Regions from separate parts of the Homo sapiens genome. Here all the other regions are linked to region 1. Evidence: fine-mapped expression QTL. A gene starts in region 1. Each other region holds a variant in brackets. All regions are shown on one strand. Distances are from middle to middle. Region 1 holds the start of LZTS1 (leucine zipper tumor suppressor 1). Region 2 overlaps LZTS1 (leucine zipper tumor suppressor 1). Region 3 holds the start of LZTS1-AS1 (LZTS1 antisense RNA 1).

Region 1 (5,966 bases):
TATTCCATGCAGAAGAAACAGTGTTTCTATGTTCAAAGGTAGCAGAATAACATGGACAGAGCCAGGGTCCAGAACCTTACTAAGCTGATCTCAAATCCCTGCCCCTCGGTTTTGTAGCCTGGCTAAATTACTTAACTCTCCTCATCTAATAATTATACATACCCCGCAGGGCTGCAGTGAAAATTAAATGAGATAATGAATAAAAAGTTCCAGGCACACAGTGGATTTAGTGGCTGGCATTAAGTGTTACGGTATTATCCATTACACTGGTCTATAAGGTGCTTACCCATAGGTCTGTCATCATTACATTATTCATCTTCCTAGCCTCGCTGCACAGCTCAGAGCCTTGCATTTGGTAGGCGCCCAATGAATATTTATGAAATGAACGTTGAATAAGCGCAAAGGCATATAAATAAGTTTTCAGGATTAGAAAGCCATTTATATACGTCTGGAGCCCATGTATAGCTTTGCTATACACGCTGACCCACGGCTTCTCAAAACTGAAAGGCACATCTTTCCCTCACACACTCCCAAAGCATTGGCTTTCCCCAGGGCACCCCACGCAGCAGCACTCCTTCTATGACAGCACCCCTGCCCCACATCGACCCAGGCACACACAGCTGGGGGCACCTCCTGCAGATACACAAATGCACAAGCTGAACTGCTGAGACAGGTTTACCTCGTGAAGCACACAGCCGCTGCTATAAATGTTAACTAACAACCATCTTCAGCACATCAAATGTCCCGCCCTCCCTTTTGCTTGCATATAGACACCCACAGAGATGCCCGTTCTTTTTCTACTAGTTTTCTTCTCTTCTTAAGCAGAGTGAGCGCCCCACACTCACATCCACCCAGCTGAGACCTCTTACTAGGACTCCCAGTTGCTCCATCCTATTAGCTGTGGGACCTTAGGGAAAGCCTTTCCCTTCTGACGCCTCCGTTTCTTCACTGGCAGGCACAGAGAGCCCACCGCACCAACCTGGTAGTTATGTTGTGAGGATAAAGGAGATAACGTATGAGATAACGTCTATGATGAGCAGAAAGAGCCTCCAAAGAAAAGCGCTGGATAAATACAAGGTGTAACGCCACGCCTGATTAGCCTGCATGCTCTCTGCCCACAGACTTCTACCCACAGACTATGTTCCACTCCACTCTTAAACACAAACACCTTTCCCGTCTGTACATGCTATCTCTAATACCCATATGCGCACACTCTTCGGGCACCTCCATTCTCCCTCTGGATGCCTGCAGAAAATTGTTTTTGAACTTAGAGAAAGCTCAGGTTGCAAACACCCTCTTGCCGGTACCCGCAGACTCTTCTCAGGGTCTTGGTGCAGGAACTGCCAAGCAGATAGCTCATCTCTTTGTGGCTGGGCTCCTGGGCTCCCAGCATTCCTATTAGGCTGCACTTCCAGCAGAGTGTGGGATCCTTATTAGGAGCAGCGCCTGCCCGGCATGGTCCAGAACTCAGTGCCTCCTCAGTACTTTCCCAGCGCCCGGGACCAGAGAGTAGAGGGGCTGATGGCAGCGGGACGGTGTGGAGGGAATAAGTGAGACAGGAAACACTTTAGGAGGCCAGATCCCTAAGCACTTCTTATTCCTGGGAAATTGAAGACTGCGAAGCTAACAAGTCTGGAGCACTTTCCCAGGCCTGACATACTCGTGGGCGAGCACAAGGCTCATTTGCTCCACAGTTCAAACCTTTCCACTTGGAGCACGAAAAAGAGACATCACCTGGCCCTTGGTGTCTCGGGGATGCCTGTTGCTGCCAAGCTGCGACCTCTGAAGCCCCTCCAGCCAGAGCAAAGCCTGTGGCAGGGTGGAGGGGTGAGGTCTGGCTGCCTAGGGTGGCGGTGGAAGAAGTGAAGGTAGTGTGGGGCTGTCTGTGTGTGCATGGTGCTTTGACTAAATTCCTGAATTGCACATCCAGGACCGACCCCAGGAAGCTGCAGCCCCAGGGAGCCACTTAGACACTTCGATTTACCACCTTCCTCTCTAACCACCTCCGCCCGTGTGACTTATTCCTTGAGGGAAACCTTTCAAATCTCTGGCTGCAACGCACCGGTGTCCTCCCCACCGGTGTGGACACAGCTCATCTGCAAAGTTCCAGGCGGCGAAGTTCAGCGGCCCGGACCGACCGCCGGACCCTCTTCCTGCGGCCCCTGCTCCTGCGGCCTCGCGTCCCCACCTCCCACTTCTTCACCTCCGACACCAGTGTCACCTAACACTGACGTCCCCGCCAGGATCAGCATCGGTGCTGGGAATAGACGAACCCCGTCTGCAGGAGACACGAAGACAAAGACAGGAGGACAGACGCACAGTCACCTCCTCTGGGCCGGGCCGGAGAAGCGGCGCCCACCCTGCAGAGGGGAGACCCTGACAGCTCCACGCGGAGACAAAGACACCTCGACAGCCACGGACACAGACAGACAAAGACCGACGGACGCGCGGACGCACGGACGGTCCGGCCCGGCGAGGGGAAAGCGGTTTCCCGCAGCCAGGGCAGCAGACCCTCCAGGGGCGAGGAGATCCCCGGCCACCGCACCTTACCTGCCCCCTGCGCCTCGGGCGCACTTGAGACTTTTTTTTTTTCCCAGTGTTTCCCGGTGTGTTCCCGTCTCTCTTTTTCCAGAGCTGCTGAGCGGGCCGGGCCGGTCCCACTGCGCGGGATGCAGCTCCCGGCTCCCACTCACTGGCCGAGGCGGGCAGAGAAACTTTCGGCCTCCCCGCCCGGCCGCTGCCAACCCGCCAGCTCCAGGCGCGCCGGCCTCTGCGCGGGTCCCGGAGCCGGGGCGGGGCGGGGCGGGGCGGGGCGGGGCGGGGCCGGCCCGGGGCGGGGCCAGAGCCGGCGCCGCTGATTGGCAGCGAGCTGCCGGCAGCCTGGTCTGTGCCGCTCGGCGGCCTTTGTTCCGGGCTGACAGCTGGGGCTGCTCGCGACCTCGCGGCTCCTTCGCGCCCGCGGCCTGCGCGGGGTCCCGGGTCCCGTCTCTCTGCTCTCACTTCCATCAGCCCCATTGGGCGACCCTGCCCCCTCAGTCTTCCTTTCTTGCCTGGCCCCCTTTCTCCGATTGTTCCTGTCTTGCTCTTGTCGCATCCTTTTTTCCCTTTCATTACCTGAAATTCTTACTCCAGTTTTGTTTAAAATCCATTCCTTCTCCCGTTCTGTGTATGTTCCCCTTTCTTCATTACCCCTTCCTCTTAATCGCCAGTTTATTTTTCTTAATACCGTCTCTCCCGCTCCCGACTCGCACTAAAGGGCGTGTGTTTTGTTCAAGGACTGGACTAGCACCCAAGTGAGGGGCATTGCGAACCACACCAGGATTACAGGCTAGAGTCCAGAGCACCGGGACTCCCACTCCCAAAACATGTCAAAAGCAAACTTTTCCAGCTCTGAGGGAGCTGAGTTTCAGGTGACAGCAGAGGCCTGTTTCAAGTTTATAGCTATTAGTCTCACCCAGTCCCCTTATAATACTATCATTTTCTCAACCACCCTCACTTTTAACTTCTAGCAACTGAGCCAGGAGAGGATTCAAGCTTACAAGGTTTTGTAGGACAAAGGGTCAGTTAACCGGAGTGCTAGGTGCAGCATGAGGCTTGGGGGCTTGAGGGTGCACTGAGGCTAATCCTCTAAAACCAGGCTTGGCGGGAAGATGGCAGCTCTGCCCAAGGAGTGTTAGCCTCATCTTGAAAGAAGCCTGTGTGTGTGTGTGTGTGTGTGTGTGTGTGTGTGTGTGTGTGTTGGGGGGTGGGGGATAGATGTAATGGATTAGGATTGACATAGCCGATCTGATTATAAATAGCATGGGGGCCGGACGCGGTGGCTCATGCCTGTAATCTCAGCACTTTGGGAGGCCGAGGTTGGTGGATCACTTGAGGTCAGGAGTTGAAGACCAGCCTGGCCAACATGGTGAAACCCCGTCTCTACTAAAAAAAAAAAAAAAAAAAAATACAAAAATTAGCTGGGTGTGGTGGCAGGAGCCTGTAATCCCAGCTACTTGGGAGGCTGAGGCTTGGGAATTGCTTGAGCCTGGAAGGCAGAGGTTGCAGTGAGCCAAGATAGTGCCACTGCACTCCAGCCTGGGTGACAGAGTGACACCGTGTCTCAAAATAAATAAATAAATAAATAAATACAAAAAAATTAAATAGAATTGTGGTGGCAGGGGGGACAGCTCAAAGGAAAACAAGCCATATGGTTTCTGCCACACCCCTGCTCAAAACCCTGTAGGGGAATCTCACTGCCTTCGGTTGTTGACCCTGAAGACTCTGACCTTCGAATCTAGGCTTCCTGAAAGATGGCACCGCGAGGGTTTAAGAACACAGACAGGCTTCGCTGCTTGTTATTTGAGCCATTACCTTCCCCTCCCTCTTTCTCAGTTTTTCTTTTTCTTTCTTTCTTTTTTTATTTGTGAAATGAGGTAACAAGTCCCAGTGTAAATTCCCTGAAGGCAGGAACTTGTTCTCTTTTATTGGTGGCTGAGGGACTTGGTCTGTTTTATTCATAGATGTATCCCCGACACCTAGAACTTGCCAGGCAACATAGTAGGCACTCAATATGTATTTGTTAAATGAATGAATTTCTCATGTATAGGTTTGTTCTGATGATTAAATGAAACCCACTGCCTTGCGGTAAGTACATACACGTGGCAGTAATTACAAGCAATACGACAATTTCTAAGTGTCAACCCCAAAGGCTACTCAGCCTTTTCCTGAACATCACCTCCTTTTCCCCACCTTTGTATAAACCTGCCCCTCAGTCTGAAAAGCTTTTCTCCTGCTCTTCTAACTCTACCTCTCAAAATCTGAGACAAAATATGGAACCCTTACTCACACCTTCTCTTATCGTCCAGGGCAAAATAATGTCTTCTTTTTCTAAAGCGCCATGCTTCTTTGTGTTGCATTTATTGACAGAGAACATGTATTCTTGCTTGCTGGTGAGAGTATCTCAAGAATTTTAGCTGAATGAGTTAATATCGATCAAACATTCCAGCGCTTTAAGGAAAGAGCAGACTCCTGGAAGGTAGATTAAGGTATGAGGTGGGCTCCAGACTTCAAACTCATTTTCACATCGTCGGAGGTGAGATTCCATGGAAGAGACAAAGGACTCTGGAAGCCCACTTTTTGTTCTGGCCCTACTGCTGACTATATGCTCTTGGACAAGCCATGTCCCTAATGAGGCCTCAGTTTCCTCATCTGGAAAGTGGATGGTTTGGAGTCCCTGATGAGACCTCAGTTTCCTATCTGGAAAGTGGATGGTTTGGAGTCCCTGATGAGGCCTCAGTTTCCTCATCTGGAAAGTGGATGGTTTGGATGAGAAGATACTCCTTAAGGACCCTCCTTCAGCACTGACACCTTTGTCAGTGACATTCTAGGTGAAAGCTGGGTATGATGTGCAGCCTTCCTGGAATGACTGAGTCAGGCAAAGGGTATGAGCAGTGTGTTGGTTTGTGTATGAGCGGTGGAAATGGGATACCCTATGGAACAACAGAAACACCCTGTGGAAGGGATACTTTAGAGACAGAATGCATAGAGAGTGGGGCTGGAAATGAGAAGGCAGAGTGGAGAAGGAGACCAGTGATGGACAGCACAGCATGTGTGTATGTATTATGGTTCCGTATGTGTGCATGAAAGCCTCAGGAATGTGGTCTCCAGCAGCACAAAGCCATAATTAGCTCCCTGATTCAGCAGTTGGGTATGGTAATGCAATGGCTGGGTGTGTCTACCCCCAACACCACCGGTAGGTTCTCAGTGTGGCTCCTTTTCTTCCTTGTCTAGTGAAGGGGCGCTGCCCTTCCTTAGTGTCTGGGTTCCCGAGAGGTGTCTTATGTGAAACTCTGCATCCCTCAGGCTCTCCCTTGCCTGAGTCGAGTCTAGAAAGCTGGGTCACAAAACATTTCTTGTAAAAATCTCCTACCCTCCTCCTGTATTCATCACCTGAGATACAGAGCATCATGCTTCATCTCTAGGAC
Region 2 (5,966 bases), 53 kb before region 1:
TTATCTCTCTCTACCACCGCCTCCCGCTCCGCACATCTGCAGAGAAACCCTGGACTCCCTGGGGCACTGCCCAAGCTCCTGAGAAAGGGAGCTGCTCTCTGGATCCTTTAGTCTGGGACAAATGGGGGTCTTGAGGTGGAGGGAGGATGGCTGGTGGCCAGGCTATTCACACTGCTGTGTGTATGCCTCTTTTTCGTCCTGCTTGGGGCTCTGGCTTCCTGGCGCTCTGAGGAGCCGTCCTGACCTCTAGAAACCCAGAACTCAGCCCTGAAGGTGCTAAGGGGGAAAGGTTTGCCGCTAAACCTGGCTGTAGGCAGAGGAGGAAAATGCCCAGATCACATATATGCCATCTTAGTGATATGGGCTCTTCTGGATCAAGCAAAAGCTTGATTCTGGGGAGGGAAAAACATTCCAGAGTAGCCGCCGGCCAACGTGAAGCAGGTAGGGACTCCCAGCCTCTGGCCCCAGCTGGACAGATGGGGAGGCTCCCTGAGGGTGCCTGGAAAGCCACACCCTCTGGTTCACGGTGGTTTCAACCCTCCCTTCCCAGCACCCAGCCCAGGGCCTCAGGGTCTATGGCTTAAAGAAGAGTGGTCACCGAGGTCAAAGGTCACTGGCTGTCCAGAGGCTGCTCAGCTCCCATTTGCAAGAACCAGTAAACAGGGGCTGGGCCCCAGGGGCTGGCCATCACCCGCCACTGGCTCTCAACCCTTGGATTCTCCCTCTGCCCTCCTCTGGCTGTGGCAGGGTCTCCACACTGCTGGGCTGCCTGTCTCTCCCCTCCTTCCTGTGGCTTGCCGGGGCTGGGACAGCCCTGAGGTTTCAAAGCCAGCTTCCCCGCGGCTCATTCCACCCCTACACCTCTGCGGCCAGAGGAAAATAGCTCAGGTTCTGATGGGGCTGGTTCCAAGGCTTCTGGTCATATATGGCTTCTTTCTATTTCCAAGGCATTCCAATGTGTCCAGGAGGAAAAAGAGGTTGGGATGAGAAGCAGAGGGGAGCCGCTGTACTTGCTGTGGCCACCTTCCCTGGAGGAGGGGGAGAGGATATCTATTTCGAACAAAGGCCAAAGTTTAGGGAGCCCTTAACCAAAGCAGACAGACCCCTGGACCCATCTCCTGGGAAAGCCAGAGGAGTCAGGGCCTGACGTCTGGTGGGCTGCAGGGCTGGTGAGCACTGGGACATCAGAGAGGGAAGGAAAGGCCATCCTGCCCTCCCCTCGGGGGTCCTGGGTCTGTGTCCCAGGGAGTGGCGTCTCTCAGAGGGGTCTGAATTGCTGAGCAGGGGGGATGCACGGGAGAGCCCTGCCTCCCAGTGCCAGGTCCCCAGACTCGCCTTCCCAGGCAGCCCCTCAGATCTCAGTGGCTATGATGTCCTCGTAGGGGATGTCAGCCCCTTCCAGGTCAACCTCCAAGGGCTCCCCGGCGCTGTCCCCACGTGCCAGCTGCTGCAGGGCCTTCTCCAGGCGCTGGTTCCGCTGGTACATGGCCACGTAGCTCTGCTGCAGCTGTTTCTGGTACTGAATCACCTTCTCCTTCTCCTCCTTCCACACGAGCCGCTCATGCTGGAAGCCCGAGGACATCTGGTCATGGCCTTGCCGCTCCTCCCGCAGCTCGGCCCGCAGCCGCTCCAGCTCCCGCTGCAGGGCAGGGACGTCCTCGGGGAAGGTGGGCGGCCCCATGTCGCGGGCCAGGGCGGCCTGGGCCCGCAGCTCCTGCAGCTCCTGCTCCAGCAGGTTCACCTTCTCCCGCAGCAGCTCCGCCTCGTTCTTCTTGCGCTGCAGCTCATTCTCACAGACCTCCAGCTCCAGGCCCTTGGTGCGCAGGGCGCCCTCCAGGTCCTGGGTCCTCAGCTCCAGGCCCTCCAGCTTGCCCCGCGTGTCCTTCAGCTGTGCCTTGAGACCCAGGATCTCGCTAGCCTTGGCGTTCACCTCCGTCTGGGACTCCTTCAGCTGCTGCTTCAGGAGGGAGATCTCGCCTGACTTCTGGCACACCTGCCGAGGGTGGGGTGGAGACAGAGTGCCAAGAGGTGAGTGTCCTTACCCAGGGAAGTGACAGCTCAGCTGCCTAAAATAACCAAGCCACTCCGGATGCGGTGGCCCGGTGTTAGGCATTCCAGCCTTTGTCCAATCTGAAAGTAAGCTGAACATTGCTGTGACCTTTTCCCCAGGTTATCGAGCTAGGCTATATAGTAAAATGATAAAATAATAATAATCATGTATAATGACACATAGTATATTATTATTGTTATTATTTGAGAAGTCTCGCTTTGTCACCTAGGCTGGGGTGTAGTGGCGTGATCTTGGCTCACTGCAACCTCCGCCTCCCCTCTGATTCTCCTGCCTCAGCCTCCCAAGTAGCTGGGATTACAGACACCTGCCACCATGCCTGGCTGATTTTTGTATTTTTAGTAGAGACGGGGTTTCCTCATGTTGGCCAGGCTGATCTCGAATTCCTGACCTCAAGTGCTCTGCCTGCCTCTGCCTCCCAAAGTGCTGGGATTGCAGGCGTGAGCCACCACGCCTAGCCACACAGAAGTATATTATTATAAACATACTTTCACTAATAATTTGTAGTGTTATTAAGTGCCAAGCCATACATTTGCTCATCTATTCCTTACAACCCGATGAAGTAGGTACTATTAGTAGTCCTCAATTTACATCAATGAAACTGAGGCACAGAGAGGTTATGATAGCAAATAGCTGGTGAAGTGACCAGCCTGAGGGCTAATATATATATATATATATATATATATATATATATATATATATATATATATAAAATATAAAGTATAAGAGTAGAGATTTGATCCCAACAGTTTAATCACTATACCCCATTGCCACCATGGCTAATGTATTTACAATCACCTGGATCATAAGTGGTCAAGCTGAGGTTCAAAGCCAGGCCCATGCCTCAGCCATGACTGTGTCACTCCCTTCGTGGCATGAATACAGGGTTGGCCTTGGAATGAAATTCTTGGTCCCAAGCACGCATCCTGGGTAGGGTCGGATTTTCTCCAGGACTGTGCAGTGTTTCACTGAGGGCAAGGGGAAATTTCTACTGTGAAAGGAAATGTGAAGGTGGCTTCCAGGCTAGTTCCAAGAATCCATTCTGTAGAGCCACATGCTCTGGACTTCATTCACTCTTAAGATTCAGCCAGACTGGCCTTGGTCTCCCATGACCCCAGATGGCCAAGATCCAGAGACACATGGGTCTAACCTGTGGCTTCGGTTTTCATCATTGCTCTTGGCCAAATTTTGATGGGGGATAGGGGTGGAAATAGAGAAGAAGAGCAAGAGGAGAAGACAATGATTCCTCGTTTGACAGATGTGGATTGGGCTCTGCATCCAAGCCAGCATGATACTAGTCACTGGGTACAGCAGTGAATTTGTGAGGTAGTCTTTACTCCAGTAGACAGGAGAGAGGAGGGCTGGGTGCATGCAGGGGTGAGGTCAGAGGATGTGGGCATAAAC[G/A]TCGATGACGGAAATCAGGCTGACACCAAAACCAATACCATTGGTGTTAAATGGGGGTGATACAGCTGCCAGCAGTGGGCAAGTTAAACCACTGGTTGTTGACTTGCACATAGCCAGGGGTTTGCGTGTAGACTGAGAGTTGGACTCTGAACTGGGGGTGAGGCAGGCACGTGGACAGACCAAGCTGGGTGCGAGCATGTAAAGAGCCTCAACGATGGGCTTGAACTCCATGAGTCATCCAGACCACCAGGCTGGTGAGAAAAGCTGCTTTCCCACTAATAGATGCAGAGGTTATGGGGTTCTCCAGCACGGTCAGGTACAGATGCCTCATTTCCACGTGTGACCGGGTGAGTGAGTGTGTGTGAGTGTGTAAGTGTGTGAGTGGGGGACTCTTTACTTCCTCTCCTAGGTTTCCATCTCAGCTCACCAAATAGAAGTTCCACTTACACTTCAGCAAGGAGTGGCCACTTCCATCACTGAAACCTGCCACCAATAGGGTCCCTCTTACTAGTGGGTGCAGTCCCTCCCTCCAAAGCAACAAATGCATTCTGTGCTCTCTTGGGCCCCTGGCCCCGCCTGAACTCAGGCACGGCTTGTTCTTCTTCTGAGCCTCCTGGGAGCTGATGGAAGGGAGGTCAGCCCACAGCCTGGCTGGGCCTTGGTCATCTGGCTTCCGGCTTCATGATTTAATGGCTCACTTGGGAAACTGAAATCTAGGAGCCATGAGGGTGATGGTGGGGACAGGAGGAAGCTCAGATGTAAGTCGATCCCCCAACATGGTTTGCAGGGAGCCCCTTCTTTGGGTGATAAAGCCAGCACATTAGCCCCGCTTGCCTGCGCGGTCTGTGTTTGCACGCTATTGGCCGGCACCAGAAGGAGAGGGGGGTACTGGCGCCAAACCGCTGACCACCCAAACCCATGAGCCCTGTGTGGCCTCACCTCCCACTGGGTCTCCTCCAGCGCGGGGCCGAAGCTGGTCTTCTCCCTCTCGTAGGACCTGAGCTTGGTCTCCAGCAGGTCCTGCTCCTTCATGAGGCTCTCGAGCTCCTGCCGGAGCTGCCGCTTCTCCTGCTGAAGCTGCAGTACCTGCAGGTGCAGGACCTGCTGCGCGCGCTGGCTCTTCTGCGAGGCCTGCTTGAGCTTGTTGCCGCCTTTGGGCTCCGGGCCCTCCAGCTCGTCCCTGCAGCGCCGCGGCCGCTCCTCGTAGGCCAGGCTGGAGGCAAGCTCCTTCTCCTCAAAGCTGCGCTGCAGCTTCTGGAGGGCGCCCTCCCTCTCCAACAGCTTCTGCTCCAGCTCCTGGATGCTGCACTCGTCCGTGGAGATGGGGGAGCGGACACACGAGGGGCCCTTGTCTGCCTTGTTCGAGTGGCCCAGCTTGCTACCTCCGTCGGAGAAGGACAGAGCCTTCAGGCTCATCATGTTGCTGTCCTGGAGGACGATGCCCTGGGTGATGTTGTGGGCGGAGCCCCCAAAACGGCTTGTGGGTCCCACGGGTGTGACCAGCGGGTCCAGCTGGTAGCTGCTGCTGGTGCTGTGTGTGGGCAGGCTGGACATGGAGTTCCGGCCGGAGTCTGACAGCGCCCCAGAGCACAGGCCAGGCTTCAGCTCCTGCTCCTTGGGCTTGTCTGGAGGGGCGGGGTGCAGCTGGTGGCTGGCACTCTCCGGGGAGGAGTGCAGGATGGCTCCTGACCGTGGCAGCACAGGCTTGAAGGCTGTGGGCCTCACTGCACCCTTCTCGGAGCCCTGTAGAGGAAAAGGACCGCGGTGACTCATGCCTCCCCTGCGCGCGCATTGCACCCTCCCTCCCCAGGCACGCGTGCCGACCTTGAGCCAGTCTGGGCTCTCTGAGCGCACGCAGCACCCCTCTTGGTCAATTGTCTCAGCAGACCTTGCCTGTTGCTTTGAAGCAGCTGAATGTCATCTCTCTTAGGAAGGAAAAACCCTAATGGCGACTTGGGCACTTTGTTCTATGAAATAGCAACCTGCCACCAGCTTGCCCCAGCCCTCCCGAGGTGATAAATACCATCTTGAGGCTCCTGCTCTAGGTCTCTGTGTGGGGCAAGTTAGGGCATCAGGCTGGCCGAGCTTGCTGTCCCTCTTTAGGTCCATCCCTTCTTCCTGTTCACTGCCTCTTCCATTAAGCCTGGAGCAAGGACACGGACCTGGCCTCCTTACAGGGTTGGGAGGCTCACTCCAAATCACGATCCTTTTTTAAAACTGTAATTTTCCCTGGTAGAGTGCTTCACAGTTTACAAGCCCCTTAATTTGAAAAGCTGAATGCTCTATGCAAACATAAGAGGCTCTTTCCTAGTAAATCAAAGCCGGGGATTCATTTCCCCAGGGCAAGGGGCAGAGGACTGAATAGGAAAATTGATTTCAGTGTCCACTCGTGGGACGCACGAGGGCTTGAGCTGGTGTGAGGGCTGGATTTCTCAGTGCCTGGGCCTCCTTTGCCCTAATCTCTGGTAAATGGATGACAAAACTCCAGCCTGTA
Region 3 (5,966 bases), 29 kb before region 1:
GTCCGATGCAATCTAAGCCCAACCTGTCTTCCCAGGTCATCTCCCACTATTTCAGGCTAGAATGACTGGGCCTGCTTCTTGACTGATCCACGATGTGCAGCTGCTGATACTCTGGGTCGCATCTGACCTCCAGAGTGACCTTACTGGTGTCCCTTGACCACCCTCAAGGGCCTGTCTTGCTTTTTTCCTCCCCTGTGGCTTTGCTCATGCCCAATTCTCCCTTCTGAGCCTGACCCCCCTTCCCAGATCAGGTCCTCATTGGTTTTCCCTGCTGGGTGGTCTTTGTATTTTGAAGTGGTGCCTTTGTCCACTAGACATGGAACTCTTTTTTGAGCCCAGATGCCGATGGGGACCCTAGAATCAAGACCCCCTAGCTGCCCTGTGCTTCTCCTGCTCCCTGTTGCATTTCTCAAATCTTATCAGTCCTTTGCCACTTACAAAGCCCTGTACCCACCTCTGCTGCCACACTCCCTGCAGACAACTTCATCTCTATAATACAGAGATAAGTAGAATCATTGGGAGGAAACTCCCTCAATTCCCTGAACTCATAAACCTGCAATTGACATGACTGCTGCCTCCTCTGTGCCTGTCACCGTGAAACAGAAGTCTGTCTTCATCTCAGACTAATCCTTCCAGCCATGGCGTGACTCTCGTCAACGCCAACCTTCTCACTTCCAGTTTTCTATTATTCTCTCCCATGAGCATTTAAACGTGCACAAGTCTCCCAATTCAAAAATAACATACAAGCTCCTGGACTCCATTTTCTTCTCCAGGGACCACTGTCTTTTTTCTCCCGTTCACAGCCAAGCTTCTCGAGAGAGACAGAACATCATACTCACTATTGCTGCTCGATCATTTCTCATTGGCTCTTCAATCCACAGAGGCCCTGGTTTCTGTCCCCACCAATCCACTAGAACTGCCCTCCGGGATGTTGCTAAATCCAATGGACCTTCCCAATAGTTAGCAAACTTGACCTCTCGGCGGCTCTGTCTCTTTCTTTTTCGGTCTGTGTTTTTTGAAACACTGCTTCCTTGGCTTATGTGATACCGTGATTGCCTGGCTTTCCTCCTGTTGCGCAGCCTGTCCTCTGTCACCTTTACCTCTTTCATTCTCTAAATGTGGATGCTTTTCAGGCTGTATCTGAGACCCTGACCTCTGCTCCTTCTGCACGGCGTCAGCTGCATCCACATGGGGATGATTTTTAGATCGTTATCTGCAGCCAAATCCTCTCCCCTGAGCTCCTGCCCTAAACATCCAACTGCGCTTCCCTCGGAGGGGCCACATCTCACCCTCGCACATCCACAGTGGAATTCTTCATTCTCTCTTGCTTGCCAGGATCCATCTGCCTTCAGCGTGCCCCTCCTTCTGGAATCCCGGTGTTAGTGAACAGCACAACTGTGATCAAGCCAGAAACCGGTCCCAAGAAACCTAAGCAAACCAGGAACTTTTGATTCCCACTCAGCCCTCACCCTACATCTGACCAGCCACCAAGCCCTGTCTCACTATTGCTTTTCCTCAAAACCAGCATTTCCCTGAGATTCCATAGCCACTGTCTTAGTCTAAGTTGCTATCATAGTTCCCTTGGGAAATTAATAGACCTGTTATATTTGTTTTTTTTTTTCCTAGCTCTCCCAAGGCTACCCTATTGCCCCAAAAATAAAGCCCAAATGTCCTAACATGGCAGAGAAGGCCTTCATGACTGGGACTTTCTGTATCTTTGTATCTTCATGTCATCCGCCACCACTTCCTCTCCTCCCCTCCCCAGGCCTGCCCGCCCTCTATTCTGAGACTGGAGTTTGTAAATCTGTCATTTTCTCCCTCAGACCCTGCCCTAGGTTTTCCCACGCTGCTCCCTAGGCCCAAAGCCCCTGGGACTTTGCTCAGAAGGCACTCTTCTGCTATGAAGCCTTCCCGTATCTGTGAGGCCCCTTCTGCGTGTTCTTACAGTGGGCATTAATCACTCTGTAGCACAGCTGCTCTCTACTTTGAGCTCTTTCTCAGTAGATGGCAAGACTGTTTTTCACCCAACACTGTACTCCCAGCTTCGAGCGCAGTACCTTCTGGCCCAAGACTCAGTGCTTGTTTGTTGAATGAATGGATAAGCGTGTGTTTATGCATCGTATTTTATTTTATGGTGCCTATGTTCTACCAGCTACCCTTTCCCAAATGCAACACCATAAAACACTCTACACAGTGGGTGTTTACGAACTTTTCATCCCTTCTCCTCATCCTAGGGAACCCCTTGGAATACACTAGGTAGCTTGGAGCATAGCGGCAATCATCTCCATCCCGGTGTGTGATGGAGGCTTCTCCATGTGGGCACTCATGCCTCAGTGGCACTCTGGCCTGAGCATTGGGTCCGAG[C/G]CTGTGGGCGTGTTGGAGTCTGTGGGCCTGAGTGTTAGACCCCCCTTATGTGGAGATAAGATTACAGCTGGACAGCGTAACCCAATGGGGCGTAAGTGCGTGTACCAGCGTCAACACTCCCTTGGTGTCGAGCTTTTCTGCACTCCAAGCTCCACTTTGTGAAAATAATCTGGGACACAGCACAACCAACTGTCCTGATCTGCCTGGGACTGTGGGAATTTCTGGGATGTGGGATGTCAGTGCTAAATCACCAGGAAAGTCCTCGTAAAGCGGGATGCATTGGTGGCCCCACCTAAACTGGAAGTTAGGATTTGTACAAAAGATTGAATTAGTTCTCAGTGACCCCTCGACCTAACCCTTGGTCCCTCACTGAGTGGGCTCCTTGGAGCGCTGTGATCAAAAACAAAGATAGAGTGGCTGCCATGATACTGTGTGTGTGTGTGTGTGTGTGTCTCAATGGGATTACCTCTCAGGATTGTGATATTCGCTTCCTGGAGGGAAGTCTCTGAAGGGCAGTGGGTGGGGGACAGATACTAATGTGTGTGGAAGAGATGGATAACTCATTAACTGGGGACAGAAAGAATTATGGTTGGGCGCCATGGCTCAAGCCTGTAATCCCAGTACTTTGGGAGACTGAGGCGGGTGGATCACCTGAGGTCAGGAATTCGAGACCAGCCTGGCCAACATGGTGAAACCCCATCTCTACTAAAAATACAAAAATTAGCTGGGTGTGGTGGCGGGCAGCTGTAATCCCAGCTACTTGGGATGCTGAGGCAGGAGAATCACTTGAACCCGGGAGGCAGAGGTTGCAGTAAGCCGAGATGATCGCGCCACTGCACTCCAGCCTGGGCAACAGAGTAAGACTTCATCTCAAAAAAAAAAAAAAAAAAGAATTGTCCATATGGGTTAGCTCCCAGCCTTACTTCCCCCACCCGGGAGAAGCTTTCCTGCAGACCCCAGAGAGAGGTGGGCTGGGAGTTGGGGAAGGGCCTAAGCAGGAGAAAAAATCTAAGAAGGCATAGGTGAGGGAATCCTAAAGGGTAAGGGGCAATCTCGGGGTAAGAGAGGAGAAAGAGAAGGAAACAAGGAAGGACGAGGAAGATGGAAAGTGCTGGTGGGTCCAGTCCTAGCAGCAGAGGGAGGGGTTAAGACTGGGACTCCGGAGAGGACCTCCATTGTGATGCAAATGAGTGACTGGGCAGAGAGAAGGGGCCCTGTGGGGAAGGGTGAGGGTGCAGGGCAAGGACAGCAGTAGGAGCTTACTGCAGTGACTGTATCATAACTGCTGGTTATGAGGATTGGATTTCTTTTTTGCAGATGTCACGTGCCGGGGTGAACTGTTATTAACTAAAAGGAGTCAGGGCTTAGCTGCAAGAAAGGAGGTATGTGGTTGAGTGCATTTCAACATGGGTAGAAGAAATGGTGTAGCCTGCAGAAATGAAGGCAGGTTTTTGGGACTGGAGCACATTTTAATGGGAGGAGAAGTCTATAAAGCTAGTAGCCCCCTACCTACTCCCCCATTATAACTACTTCCAAAAAATAAAGAAAATGTTTAAGAGGCCTATAGGTTATCAAGAAATAATATAATCCTGGGATAGATTCATTTTAAGATACGCTGGTTTAATGAATGGATGACTATGATATTATAAAATATATATTTGGTCTTTGACCCCATTTCCTGGCATCCTAAAATCCTTAGAGTCTCCAGAGTGATTTTTTTTTTTTTTTGACTGATGGTTGGTAGCTTCAGAATAGGGCAGGTCACCAGAAAGACCAAGGCAGGATTAGATGGTTGGGACTTTCAGCCACTGCCCCTAACCTCTGGGGAGGAGAGAGGGGCTGAAGGTTAAGTTGATCACCAATGGCCAATGGCTTAATCAATCATGCCTATGCAATGTAGCCTCCATAAAAACCCAAAAGGACAGGGCTCAGGAAGTTTCTGGATAGTTGAACACCTGGAGGGTCTTGGAGGGTGGCGTGCCCAGAGAGGGCATGGAAGCACCCCACCTCTTCTCCCCTGCCTTTCTCTACGCATCTCTTCATCTGTATCCTTTGTAATATCCTGTACAATCAATCAGTAAGTGTGTTTCACTGAGTTCTGTGAGCTGCTCTAGCAAATTAATCAAACCCAAGGCTGGGGTCATGGGAACTCCAATTTATAGCCAGTCAGAAGTATTGGTGAAACAACCTGGTGAATTAATCTCCAGGTAGGTAGTGCCATAAATGAACTGAATGAGAGAACATCAGAGGGTCCTCTGCAGAGCTGATTGTTTTCTTGTTGGTTGGGAAAACCCCACATATGTGGTAATAGAAGTCTTCTGGGTTGATTGTTACGGTGTTAGATCAGAGGAAAACGGTTTATTTATTAAAGGTGCTCCCAATACTGGACATTAGGATTAAGGGTAAGCATGTCAGAGGCATTTGAACCAGAGCAACTCCATGTTGAATAGGGGCTGGGTAAAATAAGGCTGAGACCTACTGGGCTGCATTGCCAGGAAGTTAAGGCATTCTAAGTCACAGGATGAGACAGGAAGTAGGCAGAAGATACAGGTCATAAAGACCTTGCTGATAAAACAGGCTGTGGTAAAGAAGCAGGCCAAAACCTACCAAAACCAAGATGGTGATGAGAGTGACCTCTGGTCGTGCTCACTGCTCATTATATGCTAATTATAGTGCATTAATATGCTAAAAGATATTCCCAGCAGTGCCTTGGCAGTTTACAAATGCCCTGGCAATGTCAGGAAATTACCGTATATGGTCTAAAAAGGGAGGAACCCTCAGTTCTGGGAAGTACCCACCCCTTTCCCGGAAAACTCATGAATAATACACCCCTTTTTTTAGCATATAATCAAGAAATAACTATAAGTATATTCAGCTGAACAGCCATGCTGCTGCTCTGCCTATGGAGTAGCCATTCTTTTGTTTTGTAAACTTGCTTTCACTTTATGGACTTGCCCTGAATTCTTTCTTGAGCAAGGTCCAAGAACCCTCTCTTGGGGACTGGATTAGGACCTCTTTCCAGTAACAAGTATATAAGGCTGGTATTAATTCCAACAGGACAAACCAAGAAATGGTTTAAGAACTGGGCCTTTAACTGTGGATTTTCACTTTGTAGGCTGATCTATGAGTTGGAGGAAGTAGGGTGGGGTGTTAGAAAATTCCAGCAACTCCAGGTGGGCGAACTGTCCTAAAAGCACCCTTTTCTCTGTTTCTGTGCACCATAGTGCCAAGAATCTGGTGCAAGATCCAAAACAGCAGGATTTGTCAGCCTCCTAGCCATTTCCCAGTAGGACTTGCTGTGTCTAATGCCAATTCCAGCTTGGTGCAGAGCTTGGGAACCCTGGGACTGGAGGGAAGGCTGGGAGCAGGATAATGTGTGTGTGGAAACACTCCCATCTACTATGAGCACCTTGGAACGTCTTGCTCACCACTGTATGTATCACTTAGCACAGCGCCTGGCACATAGTTGTGTTACAGTAGGTAGTCGGGCAGGCATGAGCAGGGCAGGAGAGTCCCCAACCCAGGAATGTCAGGTGACCATCAGATGGTCAGGTGGTTGTTACAGTGTGTCGCTGAAATAATAATTGGTCACAGCTGGTGCC

Evidence for each region.
Region 2: its variant is fine-mapped to the expression of LZTS1 in blood mononuclear cells (TOPMed, PIP above 0.99). The same link has a PIP of 0.9 or more in whole blood.
Region 3: its variant is fine-mapped to the expression of LZTS1 in whole blood (TOPMed, PIP 0.91).

Annotation. Positions count from the first base shown.
Region 1 is chr8:20,301,190-20,307,155 of GRCh38, forward strand. LZTS1 (leucine zipper tumor suppressor 1) reads right to left here and starts at 2,774. Exons shown (of 4, transcript NM_021020.5): 1 at 2,551-2,774. RefSeq lists a silencer at 2,764-2,833.
Region 2 is chr8:20,248,371-20,254,336 of GRCh38, forward strand. It overlaps LZTS1 (leucine zipper tumor suppressor 1), which reads right to left. Exons shown (of 4, transcript NM_021020.5): 3 at 4,412-5,215; 4 at 1-1,993. The coding sequence ends at 1,352. Among named protein-coding and RNA genes, the nearest start is that of LZTS1-AS1, 24 kb to the right of the region's middle. RefSeq lists enhancers at 654-1,195, 1,196-1,739. The variant G/A (reference allele first, on the strand shown) is at 3,473.
Region 3 is chr8:20,272,169-20,278,134 of GRCh38, forward strand. All of the region lies in intron 1 of LZTS1 (leucine zipper tumor suppressor 1), which reads right to left. It overlaps LZTS1-AS1 (LZTS1 antisense RNA 1), which reads left to right and starts at 3,605. Exons shown (of 3, transcript NR_047509.1): 1 at 3,605-3,746. RefSeq lists an enhancer at 1-241. The variant C/G (reference allele first, on the strand shown) is at 2,365.